Regions from separate parts of the Homo sapiens genome. Here region 2 is linked to region 1. A link means that fine-mapping ties the variant in region 1 to the expression of a gene that starts in the linked region. Tissue or cell type: testis. Region 1 holds a variant in brackets; the other region holds the start of a gene. All regions are shown on one strand. Distances are from middle to middle.

Region 1 (8,103 bases):
ATCATCAGCATTGACCTGCAATCATGTTCACTCTTCTGGGGCCCCTACTGGATGATTGGCCCTGCAAGCACAGGTACTGTGTCTGCATCTTCCTTGACTGTTGTCTAGGTGCTTGGCATGAGTTACTTGAGTATTCAGTAAGTCTGAGCCAATAGACATTTGTGTGTGCCGGCACCAGTGTTAGCCACTTGAAGGGCTGGCAGGGTTCTGCCACAGCTCGTAAGCCACCCTTTCTCAATTGTGCTTTGCTGAGCACCAGTGGGGAGGCAGTTCCCCCACCACATCACACAACAGTGAGGGGGCTCCCAGAGTCATCCCAGCCACTCCCATGGACTGAAGAGCCCAGATCCATCCCAGAAGGCTCTAGCACAGTCACCAGATGTCCCCAGGGAAGGAAGATGACCCTCTCATATACAGCCAGGGCAGCCTGTCTTCCACGGCTCCGCTTGTGTGACTGGGGCCCAGTGCTAAGAGAGAGGCCGATGTTTTCCACTGCCCTGTGAGCCACAAGCACACAGGTGGGTCCACAGACCTGGTGGCAGGAGCCAAAGCAAGAACAAGCAGAGACAGGGTGGCTTCCACCAAAATTCCCATGACTTGGCTGGTCTTCCACAGATGATGGGGGTCACCTGCCCCTCTAACCAGTCCACATCCTGCAGCCACTGAGTCTGTCTCGGTAAATCTCCTGGGGAGGCTCTCAGGGACCTTGCTCCAGTGGGACCTGTGTCAGAGGGTCCCTTCAGACACAGAGTGGTCTCTGCAGGCTTTGGGACATGGCGGCTGCAGGATGGGGCCCTGGAGGCTGATGCCTTGGGACAATTTCACGTGGACCTGGCCACCCCCTTGAGGACAGGAGGTAGAGCTCCACACACAGAGGGGTTTCAAGATGCCCACTTCCAACTGCTGTCAGACCCACATGCACACTCGTTCTTTATGCCTGCCTCCTCTCCGGGGACATAGGGTTTAGCAATGACCCAGGACAAGGGGAATTCTCAGCTGCTCTCATCTACCATGTGTCACTGTGACTGTGACAGCCAAGGAAACCCCATACACCAGGACCCAACCAAGGCCACTGCGAGACTTCTACTGCAGTAGGGCAGTGGGATGCCTCTCAGACCCCGCCTCCTCAGAGTGCCCGTTTGGAGCAGGGACCCATCCTGGACTACTGCCTCACTGCAGCAGAGGGGCAGGCCAGACTCTGAGGGTCTGCGGGACAAAGAATGGACCCCAGGCACCTGGCACCCAGCTCCCATCCTGTGCCATGTCCCTGCTAGTTAGCACCTCCACCTATATAGGGGCCAGAGAGGAAGGGACAGTCACTTCCATCCACCTGAACTGCTCTTTGGCCACCAAAACCTGGAGGGATGGCCATCTAGTTTCAAGTCAAAATAGAACATCTACAAGAGGTTCTAGGGCAGGGCAGCAACCTCCCCAGAGAGCCCAAGATGCAGGCCCATGTTGGAAGGAGAGAGGGTGACACCGCTCCAGCTGCGGGCTGTGGGGAGGAGATTTGCACCCTGACACCCACTGCCAGCCGCCCGGAGGCAGTTCTCACCCCCTGCCTGCTCACCCCTTCTGTGAGATGGCTGCAAAGAAAGGCTGAGTCCACATCAGACATCCTACTGTAATCATCTACAAACTCAAAGGGACTTTCTGAGACAAGTTTGTAAATTGTTTGCATCAGACCTGATTGAACTAACTCTGATGTTGGCAAGGGAAGCAGACAGTGAGGGAATTCACTCAGGGGAATTCTGCCCCAATGAGATCATAGTCAGGAGACACAGAGGAGAGACACTTAGCCACCTTCACTGGCATCACAGGATGTGGCCCTCTGGGAGGTGTGGGGACCGTTCTGCAGGACAGGCAAGGGGCTTGGAGGAACATCTACTCTATGCATGGAGACTTCCACCTAATGTAGACTTGGCCAAATGATGAAACTGCCAAGCACTGGGTGAGCCAAGAAGGCAGTTTGAGGACCTGTGAACAAGGCTCTGCAAACGGACAGATGAGCTGGGGGGTGGCTGGGGGAGCAGACACTGCAGCAAAGGCTCCAGGGCCAGAGGATGCCCCTAAAGCACTCCAGAAACAAGACTTTCAGGGAGGCCACACATCTCCCAATGCACTGGACTGTTGCTGTTGATATTAACAAAAACTAAAAATTACATAAACAAACCTACCCACTCCACCCACATCAGAAACACATGATGCTCCAGGTCCCACTGGGTGACTTGAGCACTTGTTTGGTGAGCATCTGTCTACAGGAGTGTGTTTGCTCTGGAATCTGCACTTTGGGGTTCCCGGGGAGGACTCCTTACCAGCAAGACCGGCCAGAGGACTAGGGAAGGGCGGTTTTGCTCAAATGTGTGCCTCTCTCATATTCCATCAGCACCATGGCTCCTGTCTCAGAGAAGCTGTCTTTACCCCATCCAGCACCCTAAGACCAGCCTACTCCCCACTCCCACCTGCCAAAAATATGAATCCTGAACACATCAAAAGTTATATCCTCCTGGTCCCAATTTATATGTTACTTAAAGATGAAGAGAGGAGTGACTAGGAGCTGGGTGGCCATGACTCAGCCCTGGGAGCAGACAGGCAGGTGGAGGCTGGAGAAGAGACCTCGTCTGGCTGGGAAACCAGGGTATGGAGCCAACTGTAGGAAGAAGGGCTGCCACCCACCAATGCCCCAGCCAGCGACATGCACTGGATCCTGGCTAGTGGATAACCTTTGCATGCTGAGTCCCATAGATTCTTGACTTTTTCATAACTGCAAAACATTACACTAGACCAGCCTCAGTTCTGAGGGGTGCATCCTGCCATTGAATACCTGACCCTGCCTGTTCATCTCACACGTCCGGTTGTGTGCATGCCATGACTCCAGCTCTTTCTTCCTGGGGCTATGGTAGTCTAGGGCCAGTCTGATCTCTCTTGGGCTTTCTGTATTTCTTCTCTTTGAGATCACAGAGGATGTGATTGCCACCCACCCACTGCTGATGTCGATGAACCCTGGGAAGGAGATAGAGATCATAGGACCAAACTGGACATCTTTCCCTCCCTCTCAGCAAGGCAACCTGTGGCTGGGTGAAGCTGGCAGGAACAATCAGGGGCGCCACTTCCACTTGCCCAATGGGGTCCTCTGTCGCTGTCTGAGTAGCAAAACTTAAGGATGGCTTCCCAACCCAGAAGCAAGGGGAGAAAGTGAGTAGCATCCACACTAGAGAGAAATTTGAGAGTTTCTAGCAGGAATGTCTGTGAAAGGAACTGGGGTGTGCAGAGCCTGTCTCGAGAAGGCCCGCATGTGGTGGAAGGGGCGGCCTCCCATGCAGTGGAGGGCAGGAGGAAGGAAGAAGGAAAAACCCAACAA[C/G]TGCTCCTCAGTGAAAAGCACAGGGACCTGCCAGCTCTGCTGCATTTCTGGCAAAGCACTTCACCAGCCCCCAGGGGACCCCCACTGCTCTGGCATCTGAGCTCTGTTAGCAAACACCATCACCCTGTGATGAGTTGCCTCTAGCCTCCTTCCCACTCCTCTCTCCACCTGCCTCTCCCAGGCTCCTGTCTGCAGATGCCAGGACTGGCAGGACCCCTGTGTCCTCTCCACGCATTCTGAGCGAAGGCTGGTGAGTCTCATCTGAGAGCCTTGTGGGGGTTGCATAGTGATTTGTCCTGACTGAGACTGAATGGGGGTCCTGTATTCCCACAGGTCCCCCACACTTAGGGAAAAAAGAAATTAAGCCATTAAAGAAATCAACACAGTAAAAAGTTATCAATCAGACAGCCAACGCTTAACTTACCTCAGAGGTAGTATTCCTGAACAATTAATCACAGTAAAATAAAGTTAAGAAGTTACACTGTAAGGTATAAAAAGCCTGGCGAGGTGCTCAAGGGATCTCGCCCAATAGCAGGCAGACCCCACCCTGCCAACTCCCCCACAGTGGCCACGGACAGCAGCAGCCTCCGCAAGGGTAGTCTCTCCACAGGCGGAAGCACTGTGCTGCCTACCCCATGGGGGGAACAAAATGTCAGTGTGAGGAAGGGCAGGAGACAGACACCCATCGGTGGTGGGGGTTCCTCCAGAGCACACCCCAGCCCACCCCATCATCTCTGGCAAATATGCAGACACAGACGCAGGCATCCAGGTGCCCCGTGCCCCAGGTCTCCCTGTGCCGACAACTCCTCCCCGCCCCTCCACCACTGAGAAGGCTGAGGCTGAGGCAGGGGTGGGTGGGCGCAGGGGTCATATCTGGAGAATGCAGGCTGGCAACACAAAGCTCAAATCCTCTGCCTCCACAGAGCATCCAGTAGAGGAGCGGGGAGTGGGGAGGGGCTTGTGGGGACACTCCGGCCAGCCCACACACACGTCCTACTTCTTACCAGTCCAGTGGATGTGCTGGGTGATGGTTATGGAGAAGGCCAAGCCCAGGATCTGAAAGACACATGGAAGGACCTTCTACAGGAGCTTCAGCACTTCAGCACTCTGGGCCTGACCTCTGCCCCACAAGTTGGGGTGTCACAGCGCTCCTAGTGCAAGTGGGAGTAGCCACTGGTGTGGTGGGAAAATGTCCATGGAATGGAGAAAATGGTGAGCAGAGGTCAGCCGGGTGTGGCAGGAAGGGAGAGGGAGGAACAGGGCAGGAGGACGCCCAGTACAGGAAGGAGGCAAGGCCTGTGGTAGCACAGCCAAAGCTCAGAGCCAGAGAGCTTAGCTGGTGGCATTCAGGAAAATTCCCTTTCAAAACCACAGAGTTGTCTCAGTGGCCATGGCCAAGCTATCATCTAGTCTATGGCAGGAGAATCTAGGGCGAGGCAGGGTGACTCAGGGGATCAGGCCCCAGCCAATGTCAGCACCAACCAACCAGAAGTCGCCAACCACCCCAGTGTGGTCCAGGCCTGATCAGTGCCCTTCTCCAAGCAGGGGCAGGCCTAGGGGCCAGCCTGAGTATCAAGCCTCCCCTGCCTGCTTTCCCAGTTGAGGGCATTTCAAACTAACTTTAATTCAGGGCTCCAAATAAACCCACATCGAAATTTGAGAAGATGAACTCCCATCCTCGCATTTGCTTATGGCCTCCTCAAGGGCCAGGATTTGGGTCTGTTGTACTTGTGGTTAAATCCCCAGACTGGGGCCTCACCCTTGGCAATTCCTTTGGGTTGTCCTCCTAGGATGATCCTGTCTGGGCCCTGCCCTGATTTTGCAGGAGGGAGAAGGTGCAGGCCCCTGGCATAGGGAGGAGCCCTGAGCCAATGGGCATCTCAGGTCTCCCTCATCACCACTGGCCCATTCAACACATGCACAGCAGGTAAACTGAGGCCAGTCAGGCTATGGCTGTATAGTGAGCCCGCACTTCAGACTCCTCATTTATTAATTCTTGTAATTAGCCCAGTATCCCTATGGCATTTTTTTCTTGTTTTGTTTGAACCATATTGAGTTGTAGTTTTAATATATGTTTCTGCCATAGGTATATTTCATGCAGACATCCCATTTCTCTGGGGGTGGGGCCCACGATTTCCCCTTGAAGCTACCCTCCCTCCTGAGCTTCTACCCGCACTTGCACGCTGCTTAGGACCCATGGACAGCCACTGCCCATAGCCGTTCATAGCTGCCACCAGTCTCCCATCGGTGTAGGGGGGGCCCCTCCCCAGGGGTGACCTCTTGTGCTGGGGCTGGGACCACAGCAGAACATTAGGAACCCTCCTAGGCTTCTGTGTAGACTCGCTGTCCACCCTCTCTAAAAACACGAGCATTTCCAAGACCTGGGTTCATATCTTACCCATTTTTTTTCCCCACTGTAAGGTCTAGAATATGCCTGGAATACCAGATAAATATTTGCTTGAGGAATGAATAAATGAGTGATGGGGACAGGTGGGGGTTCCTGAGCAGACCACAGCCCGGGTACAGGGCCACACCCAGACCCACAAACCCACAGAGAAAGCCCTCTGTGCACCCTATTTTCCCCACTCCCAGAAACCCCAGGGCCCCCAAATTACTCCCCTTTCAGTCACCCTTGGCTCCTCACTGACCTGGGATAGGTCGTCTGCCCTACCTGCCCCAGCCCCCATCACAGCCCATCATATCCCCTGGCTATTTTGGTCACCACTGCCTCATGCCTCTCTGTGGAGACAACCAGTCTCCTGGGGTTGGGTGTCACTGGTGGCCCCCACCCCGACCCCTTGGCCCCTCTGCCACCCTCATCCCCTCTTTGCTTCCAGGAGATTTTCAAATGCTAGGGCTCAGCACTCCCCGATGCTTTCTGTGGGCCAGGGCCAGGCCCAACATTTAATAACATTTAATAAATTAGTGAATGGGAAGACTTTTTTGTTTAAGGCTTTAATTTCACAGCCTGACATGCCTGCTAGTAATGAACCTGCCAAGAACTTCGTCTCGGGGAGCAGGGACAACATGTCAGTTCCAGGAGTGCCCCTGCTTTGACTTTCAGTGCCCCTTGCCCCCAGGGACCCCACAGCTCCTTCATTCTCACAGCCATAGAGGCGGGGGCCAGGGAGGAGGGAGAACTGGATGGTGCTTCCACTTCCACATGGAGAGACATGAAGGGGCAGAGGCATCTTGGTCAAAGCTACCCAGTAGGCAGAAGGGCCGCAGCTCCCTGGAACCACAGAGAGGCAGGTGGCCACACAGGGTCTCCCAGGGTCTGAGTGTTCACCCTCCAACAACTTATTCCATTTCTTTTTTCTTTTTTTTTTTTTTTTTGCATAACTTTACTCAAGAATTCTTTCTTATTACCTGAAGAATCTACTTCCCTGTGGCTAACACACATCAGTCCTAGTTTTGCTCAAGAAATCTACCAAGAACAAGTAAAACAGGCCTTTAAATATTTGAAGGTATGCATGGAACAATTCAGGTTCCTCTGCTGAAAGCTTCCTGTCCACAGTTTCCCCAGAGAAACATGTCCACAGTCACAGAGCTCCTTGTGGTACAGCCATGCCTGCTCCCAGAACCCAGAGCCCTCTTCCCTGTCCTTCCTCATTGGTGCTGTGCTGCTGTGGATGGTGCCTGCAGCCCCAGGCTAAATGCGCTAGGCTAAAGAGACCAGGCTGAAGCAGGGCAGCCATGAGTCAGGAGCTGGTAGTGGAGAGAGGTGAGGAGGTCCTGCCACTGCCCCAGCTGCTCCAGCCCCAGCCTGCACATCAGGGGGCCACTCTGCTGGCCTCCCGGAGCCCATCCACCCAGGACCAGCAGCAGCATCTGGCTAGACAGGCTCTACTCCCTCCACCATCCTCCTGGGAGGCAGCCCGCTTTTCCGATTTGCAGGCACGCTTTCTTTTGGCAGGGAGCTGCTGCCATCTGTGCTCTGGACCATAAAACAAGTTTTCGTCAATAAATTAAGATAGTGACTGAGATGAGAAGTCATTCTGCAACACAGAAGGGGCCAATGCGAATCTAAAGCAAGACTGGGTTCCCACCCATTTCCCTGAGTTCCCTGTGCGCCATTCGACCCAGGCTTCTAAGAGAAGGAGAGACTCGGAAGGTCACCTGCCTCCCTCTGGCCCCATTACATCCTTGAGGTGGGTAAGCCAAGGGTCACAGTGACAGGTAAGCCAGGCTTTCAGCAATGCTCTGAGCCAAAATAATGACCCCAATCGCTGTGTTAGACGAGCTAAATCACTCAGACACTGCCTGCCCAATGACTAACACTATAAAACCTCCCTGCAAATCAAAATGCTCTTCCCCTGGAGCCTCCCCGCTCTTCAGCATGAACCTTGGTTCTCGCAAATGCGCCTTCCACACCTCTGCCTCCAGACCCTGCTCACAGCACATCTTCCTACCCAAAAAGCCTTCCTTGTCTTCTCTGCCCTGTTCTCAATCCAATCCAGGGCCTTCAAGGCCAGCTGAAGCCCCACCTCCTCCTCCAGGCCTGCCGACCCCCTATTGCTCTGCAGTGGCTGCAACTGTCTGTACCCCTCATCAGCCTTAGAGCATTCTCCCACCCTGTGAGCACTGACCTTTTGCCGGGTGCCTGTTCTGGCTACAAATGGCTGCATGAGGGCAGGAGCCTCTGTTCAGACTTCTCTGTGCAGTGTCCTAGCATCAAGCATGATGCTGGGCACAGAGGGAATCTCGTTCATAAACAGCCAGATATGGGCTGTGTGAGCCAT
Region 2 (8,103 bases), 69 kb after region 1:
AAAGCAGAGACTCAGAAGGCTTAAGTCATAGGCCAAGGTCATCCAGCCAGTTGAATGGTGGAGTGGGGAATATCTGGATCCAGGCAGTCAGACTGTTTTTTTTTGTTTTTTTTTTTTTGAGACGGAGTCTCGCTCTGTCACCCAGGCTGGAGTGCAGTGCCGTGATCTCGGCTCACTGCAAGCTCCGCCTCCCAGGTTCACGCCATTCTCCTGCCTCAGCCTCCCAAGTAGCTGGGACTACAGGCGCCCACCACCACGCCCGGCTAATTTTTTTTTTTTTTGTATTTTTAGTAGAGACGGGGTTTCACCATGTTAGCCAGGATGGTCTCGATCTCCAGACCTCGTGATCTGCCCACCAGGCAGTCAGACTTTATTAGAACATGCACTTAAAATTAGCAAGAAGGAATGAGAACAACAACAACAAAATTAAAAAATGCTTGCCAAAGAAAACTAAAACAATGTGCAATATTTAGCCCTGAGATCACTAGCAGTGAAGGCAAAGAAGAATGCATAATGGGTTTCTACAGCTCTCACTGTCCGGTTATAGAAAATATTTCTACATTAGTACAAGCACTTTTCTTCCTAAGCCCTGAGTTTTGAGAGTTTATCAAGAAGGCCTCTGAGTTCATTCAATTAATGGCATCATCTAAGGCTGTTTAATAACAAATGCAGAGGTAGTCCACATAAGGAACTTTTGCCTTTACCTTTGAGACAAAGCCCAGGGCCTCACGTTAGGAGTACAGCTCTCTAAATATAAGCCTCCAGGGCAGAAGCGAGGGGAGGATGGAGGGACACAATGCAGATTTACAGCCTGGTGGGTACGGCCTTTGTCCTCTCCATGTCTATTGTCACTCTTGAGGTCCAAGCCTCTACTGCACTGCCTGGTTTACTGCACAACCCAACTTGGCTGCTTGCTTCTGGTCTCTCCCCACCAAACCATCCTTCACACTGCTTCCAGCTTAATATTTCCAAGACACTGCATTTGCAAATCCACTCCTCTGTTTAAAAATGTTTCAGTGACTTGCAACTTGTCTACAGTGTGAAGTATAAATTTATTAGCTTGTTGTTTAAAGCCTTCTACAACCAGACCCCGACCGACCTTCACGTCCTATTGAGAGGTGACAGCCTGCTGGCAGCCCTCGCAGCCCTGGCTCGCTCTTGGCGCCTCCTCGGCCTTGGCACCCACTCTGGCCGCGCTTGAGGAGCCCCTCAGCCCGCAGCTGCACTGTAGGAGCCCCTTTCTGGGCTGGCCAAGGCCGGAGCCAGCTCCCTCAGCTTGCAGGGAGGTGTGGAGGGAGAGGCGCAGGCGGGAACCGGGGCTGCGCTCGGCGCTTGCGGGCCAGCGCGAGTTCCCGGTGGGCGTGGGCTCGGCGGGCCCCGCAATCGGAGCAGCCGGCCCGCCAGCCCCGGGCAGTGAGGGGTTTAGTACCTGGGCCAGCAGCTGCCGTGCTCCATTTCTCGCCGGGCCTTAGCTGCCTCCCCGCGGGGCAGGGCTCGGGACCTGCAGCCCACCATGACTGAGCAGCCCGCCATGACTGAGCCGCCTGCCGGCGCCCCAGCCATGGGCTCCTACGCGGCCGGAGCCTCCCCGACGAGCGCCGCCCCCTAATCCGCGGTGCCCAGTCCCATCAACCCCCAAAGGGCTGAGGAGTGCCGGTGCACAGCGCGGGATTGGCAGGCAGCTCCACCTGCTGCCCGCTGCCGCATCCACTTGGTGAAGCCAGCTGAGTTCCTAAGTCTAGTGGGGACTTGGAGAACCTTTATGTCTAGCTAAGGGATTGTAAATACACCAATGGGCACTCTGTATCTAGCTCAAGGTTTGCAAACACACCAATCAGCACCCTGTGTCTAGCTCAGGGTTTGTGAATGAACCAATCGGCACTGTGTATCTAGTTAATCTGGTGGGGACTTGGAGAACCTTTGTCTAGCTAAGGGATTGTGAATGCACCAATCGGCACTCTGTATCTAGCTCAAAGTTTGTAAATGCACCAATCAGCACTCTGTGTCTAGCTCACGGTTTGTAAATACACCAATCGACACTGTGTATCTCGCTAATCTAGTGGTGACCTGGAGAACTTTTGTGTCTAGCTCAGGGATTATAAACGCACCAATCAGCACCCTGTCAAAACGGCTCAATCAGCTCTCTGTAAAACAGACCAATCAGCTCTCTCTAAAATGGACCAATCAGCAGGATGTGGGTGGGGCCAGAGAAGAGAATAAACACAGGCTGCCCTAAGACAGCAGCAGTAACTCACTAGGATTTTCTTACCACAGTATGGAAGCTTTGTTCTTTTTGTTTTTTAGGTCTGCACTGCCTTTATGAGCTGTAACACTCACTGCAAATGTCTGCAGCTTCACTCCTGAAGCTAGTGAGATACACGAACCCACCGGGGTGAACTAGCAACTCCAGTACATGCCGTCTTAAAAGCTGTAACACTCAGGCGAAGGTCTGCAGCTTCACTCCTGAGCCAGCAAGACCACAAACCCACCAGAAGGAAAAAACTCCAAACCCATCGGAACATCTGAGGGAACAAACTCCAGACACACCGCCTTTAAAAACTAACACCGCGAGGGTCTGCAGCTTCAGTCTTGCGTTAGTGAGACCAAGAACCCATCAATTCTGGACACACTATCAACTTTGTTTCTCCAAGGGTGCTTCTTAAACTGGATGATGCACACCCTAGGAGTGTGTGTGTAGGATGGGGTTTGAAGCAGTAGGGTAAAAAACCTAGCATACATTCTATTCCAGAGGTGTCAATTTACCAGACAACAGTTATTTTAAAACTTTTTTATGCAAAAACATGTTATAGGGTGGAATGCAACATTTTTATGGGCCTGTGGGCCATTTGTATACATCTTTGGAGAAATGGCTATTTAAGTACTCTGCCCATTAATTCTAAACTTAAAACTAAGACTTCAAAGTCCCTCTAAGGATTTTGCTGGGCCACATCCCAAGACCCTGAAGGGTATTACTTACTCGCCCTCTCCAAACTGCCGAAGTCGGAAGCAGGTGACAAAAAAGCTGACCCTGGAATCACCTTTTGTAAATTTCCCACCTCCAAGCTTTTCGATAGTTTGTAACACTGGCTCCTCTCCCCAAAAGCCTTTCCTTCAAGTCCCAGCAACTCTCCCTGACCCTGCTGGGAAGGCGCACCAATTACCTGTCATTCCAGGAAAGCTCATAGCATAAGATGATCCCATTGGTCATCTCCCAGAACCAGACTTTCTGAAAAGTCCTCAAGGACCAGCTAGTCCAATCCCTCACTGAATAAAGGAGAAGCAAAGTCTAGGGAGGTGAGGTGATTCGTTGTCCTCCTAATTAGCAGGTGAGCTCCTGGCAGGGCTGGGGTTTCATCTTCTGGGCTCTCTGCAAGGTCGTGCCCGGCACGGGCCAGGAACAATTTCATAAACTCGTCATCTAGACGGCCTTTGACTGACACCATCTCTCCGTGTGGAGGAGCCGCTGGGGTGCACGGGGCAGGTGTCGTCCGTTTCAAAGGTAAAATAACCCAGCTGCAGACCTCCAGAGGCCGACTAGAGCCGGGGTCAGAAAACAGGTTTTCCCTCTCGGGGACAGCGCCCAGGGGACCGGCATTAGAACATCGGCTGATGTTTCATCTGGTCAGGGAACCATCCAGCGCTTAGTACACCTGGCGCTAATCGGCGGGGATTAATCTCACACCCCGCAGCTGGCGGAAAGCAGCGGGAGGAGGCACCTAGCCCTGGGGTTGAGATCCCAGTTCCCGCGTGCGCAAACCACGCCCCTGTAGATTCTCGCTGCTGCGTGTTCGCGCGCGTCCCGGAGTGCGCATGCGCAGCGGCGGGGGTTGTTCCGGCTGCCTTTCACTGAGGGGACCCGCCAGTTTCTAACTCAGTGGCGTTTGCCCTGATTCCCGGGGCCTGGCTTTCAGCGTAGCAATTCTGCCGGCGAAGAAGGTGAGCGCAGTGCTGTGTGGCAGCAGAGCTCCTTAGGACGAGGAGCAGCGGGACGAGGAAGGGCAGACTGGTGAAATCGCAAACTGGGCGTCTGTTCCGGCGCCGGACCCCTATTTGCAAAGGTGGGTGGCCCGTCCGGAGCGGGAAAACATTCCGGAAGTGGAGGGCCGGGCCAGCGTGATTGACAAGCGGGAACCCCTGTGTGGGGACGGGTAGGCCTAGGAAGGTTGTGCCTGCGGTGGAACTGGGCGGTGCGCAGAAGTGGGCATTAACAGCAGCCGCGTGTCTGGGTCTTAGATTTGGCCCAGCTGTGTTGAGCTTTTCATGGATTATCTTACGTAGATAAGACACTGCAACAGTGAGTGAGCGCTTGTAACCCACCTGTCTCTTACGGAAACTGAGCCCCAGCGATGCTAACTTTAGCAAGGATACAGCTGGGATCCTAAACTTGGCAATCAGAGCCCAGAGCCGATAAAGTTAGCTGCATGAGTCTAGCTTCCCCCAGGGCGGGAATCGAGGCGGAGCAGGGTACAGTACGGAGGCCAGGAATGAGTGCACTTGACCAGATTGTTGACGGAAGTGTCATAAAAATGGACTTAAATGCTGATAAGCAGCTGTTTGGGTTCCACACAGGGTGCGAGCTCAGGATGCACGTTGGAGGGGACACAGGGCCAGAGCAAGGTGGGAATGCGGGTATTATGGGCCAGGCCATCCTCCAGCTGGTGGAGCACCGCAGTACTGCAGTGTGTGGCCCTGGCTTAACAGCAGTGCGGAAAAGCTTTTTTCTTGGGGCTGTGGTGCTTTCCAGGTGTGTGAAGTTAAAACATTTTAGGGCCATACGGTAGATAGTACCTGCCACATAGTTGTCTTGGTCAGCCCCGGCTGCCATGACAAAATACCATAAACTGGGTGGCTTAGACACAGAAATGTGTTTTCTCACAGTCCCAGAGGCTTGGGATGTCCAAGATCAATGTGGGGAGGACACAACTGAGCCCACAACAATAGTCTGTACTCAGTAATGAGTGATAATTGGGGACTGAAGAAAATGAACACGTTAAGAACTAATATGTTCCTGAAGTGCTTTCACAACTCTAACCTCGTTTTATGAGCGTGAGCTTTGCTGTCCTGGTGTGTGCCTTGGCACTGGGAGGTGATGGTTGTCCTCCACACAGCCAACCTGAAGAGGGCTGAACAAGTCACTGCAAATGTTTTTAATAGGGCTTAGTGAATCCGTTATACTCAGATTTATCTAAACCTCTATGATTTAGCCTGTGCTGCTTCTGGAATAATGAGATCCATAATTACCACTGATGGGGAAGTGAAATAATACTTACGTTTCTTCTGTATTGTTTAGTGTTGTCATTCTAGAGTTTGGTAACCAAGTCTGTCTTTTTTATCCCACTTATCCTGGTGGGAGGAAAAGTGAGGAGATAGAAAGTTTCAGGTGGCTTGGGGGTCTGGCAGATGTGGTTCAAATCCTGAGTTCAAGCACTTGCTGAGTGACCTTGGGCAAGTCATATAAGTTTACTGAGTCTCAGTTTCTTTCTCTATAAAATAGAGCTTATAAAAATACCACACAGGGTTTTTGTGGGGTTATCTGAAAACGGTTTGAAACCATTAAAGAACTGGCCATTTAACTAATAGGTATTCAAGTCATGGGACCTCCGTTACCCAGCCTCGGAAGAGAAACCTTCACTTACAGCCCCGATGTCTGGCTGGCTACTCATTCGTTCATCAGATTTTTGTTGAATGCCTATGAGGTGTCGAAGCACCTAGTTCTGAGTCCTGGAGCCAGAGAAGAGCAAGACAGACAAGGTTCCTCTATTTATGGAACGTATATTCCAGTGAGGAAGAATAAATAGGTTCAGATGGTGCTAAGAGCTATGAATAAATTAAATACAGAGTAATGTGATTTTTTAAAAGTGACTTAGAGCAAGCTAGGGGGTGAGGAGTGGGGGTGGTGTTTGACCACTGTCCAGCGGCCAGACAGCCGGAGAGGCTTCTCTGAGGAGGTGAGCCAAAGCCTGGATATTGAGGAGGACTCCTTCTCCAGGCCAAGGGGAGCAGCAAGTGCAAGGCCCGAGCTGAGTAGATGAGGCTGGGAGCCTGACCAGTCTCAGGCTGACCAGTGCTCTGTCTTGAGAGGAGCTGCTGGTCAGCTTTTTGTCTTGGGATTCAGAACGAGGAGACATGAAGACTTTTTACTTGGCAGTGGGAGCTGAAGCTGAAAGGTCCAGGGGCTGATGAGGCCACGTGTAAGCGAAAGTTTGGGATAAGCAGAAACCGAGTGCGCTGAGGGAGTGAGATTGTGGCTGTATCCGGCACCTGGCTGAGCAGGAGAGTGAACCCCGTGGGTGTGTGTTTGCTGGTGACGTTCCTGGAGCTGTCTTGAAGTCCGAGCTGCCTTGCAGCTTGTAGTCTGCCTCTGTTTTTGGCTTTCCCAGATAGTTTCAATTCTTACTCTCAGTTTGTGAACCTCCCTTCAGTGAACCTCCCTTCACTTATGCTGGATATCTCTTGCAACCGGATGAGCTTCACTAAAGCAGAGTCATTTGGACCTGGATTCGAATCCCTGGTTTTCCACTTTTTAGCTGTGACTTTGAGCAATTATTTAATTTCTGTAAGCATCAGTATCCAGTAGCTGTATCCTTATAGTGTTGTACAGATTAAATGAGATAATAAAAGCAAAAGACCACTGTAGAGTGTTTAACACATAGGAGGTACTCAAAAATTTGTTAGGTACCTTTCTTCCCCTTTCCTTCATGTGTTAAAGCTTTTTCAGTACATACCCCTCTCTCAGGATTGAATTGTAAATCATGTTTTTTGATTACCCTTCTTGTAATAATTCCTCTACCTCTGTAGTCATGTTTTTCTTTTTTCATTTTTTCTTGTCCCCAGAATGTCTAACAAAACAGCCAAATATACCTCTGTGAAGACAGAGGGTAAAATAATGCTAGTTCTGTGAGTTCTCTCTTCTTGTGCAAATCCATAAACTGCCACCAATCTGTAGTCATTTTAATTGCCCCTAAACCGAAGAGCATCGTGGCAACTACCTTTCCCCTCGTAAATAGAGTGACACTATCACTAGTCTTATTGAGGCCAAAGTTATAAAGATGGGCTCTCGATCTACTAATATTAGTAAAATGGGTTTGGGACTTACTAACATTTGTGCTTAGAAGAGACAGACCTGGCAAAGAGCTTGGAGAAGTGAGTTCCAAAGAGAGAGGTGTGGGAACCAGGATGGAAGAGTCAGGCCTCCAGATAGCGTTTACTTCTCCTTTCTTCCTTGAATCACTGTCTCAGAGATAATTAGGTTCAGGAGAGGAGAAAAAAAAAGATGACGTCAACGTGGAGCAGAGTTTTTCTTAGACCTTAGCCTAGCAAGGAAAGAGAAATGCCTGGTCTCAGTACTGGGAAGCTGTTCCAGCCAGAGCCCCGTGGCTGTGAAGAGAGCTCTCCTGTCTGGAACCAAACAGAAAGCTCATAGGTCTAGAGGCCAGAAAAGTTAGTAGGTGGTGGCTCTGTTCGGTGCTGGAAATGGAGGCCAGGATGAACTAAGAAGCAAACTAAAGATACTTGTAAGATAAGGACGTGTAGGCCGGGTGCGGTGGCTCACGCCTGTAATCCCAGCACTTCGGGAGGCCAAGGCGGGCGGATCACGAGGTCAGGAGATCGAGACCATCCTGGCTAACACGGTGAAACCCCGTCTCTACCAAAAAAAAAAATTAGCTGGGCGTGGTGGCGGGCACCTGTAGTCCCAGCTACTCGGGAGGCTGAGGCAGGAGAATGGTGTGAACCCGGGAGGCGGAGCGTGCAGTGAGCCGAGATTGCGCCACTGCACTCCAGCCTGGGCGACAGAGTGAGACTCTGTCTCGAAAAAAAAAAAAAAAAAGATAGGGACGTGTATGTTAACTTGCGCTATCCAAACAACAAGCTGTGCTTATGGTCCTCTGCCTGTGCGTCATGATTTTCCAGGACTTCACAACGGGATAAAGTGAAGTAGCTTCGGCTTGTGAATGTGCATTGCAGAGACGTGGGAGAAGAAAGCTGCAAAAGTCATTATAAGCAACACCCTTGATCTTAGGGGTGCTGGTCTGTGAGAAGAGAGCTCTAAGCCTTTTGTAGAGGCATTAGAAAGGTATCGGAGCCACGGTGAAATGCAGGGGA

The links. PIP is the estimated chance that this variant, and not a neighbour inherited with it, causes the effect.
Region 2: DDX11-AS1 starts here. The variant in region 1 is fine-mapped to the expression of DDX11-AS1 in testis (GTEx, PIP above 0.99).

The regions. Positions count from the first base shown.
Region 1 is chr12:31,001,432-31,009,534 of GRCh38, forward strand. It overlaps TSPAN11-AS1 (TSPAN11 antisense RNA 1), which reads right to left and starts at 4,541. Exons shown (of 3, transcript XR_007063261.1): 1 at 4,366-4,541. It also overlaps a transcript of TSPAN11 not described here. The variant C/G (reference allele first, on the strand shown) is at 3,362.
Region 2 is chr12:31,070,034-31,078,136 of GRCh38, forward strand. DDX11-AS1 (DDX11 antisense RNA 1) reads right to left here and starts at 3,814. Exons shown (of 3, transcript NR_038927.2): 1 at 3,162-3,814. DDX11 (DEAD/H-box helicase 11) reads left to right here and starts at 3,827. Exons shown (of 27, transcript NM_030653.4): 1 at 3,827-4,058. RefSeq lists enhancers at 3,478-4,009, 3,882-3,991, 4,522-4,681, 4,542-5,071.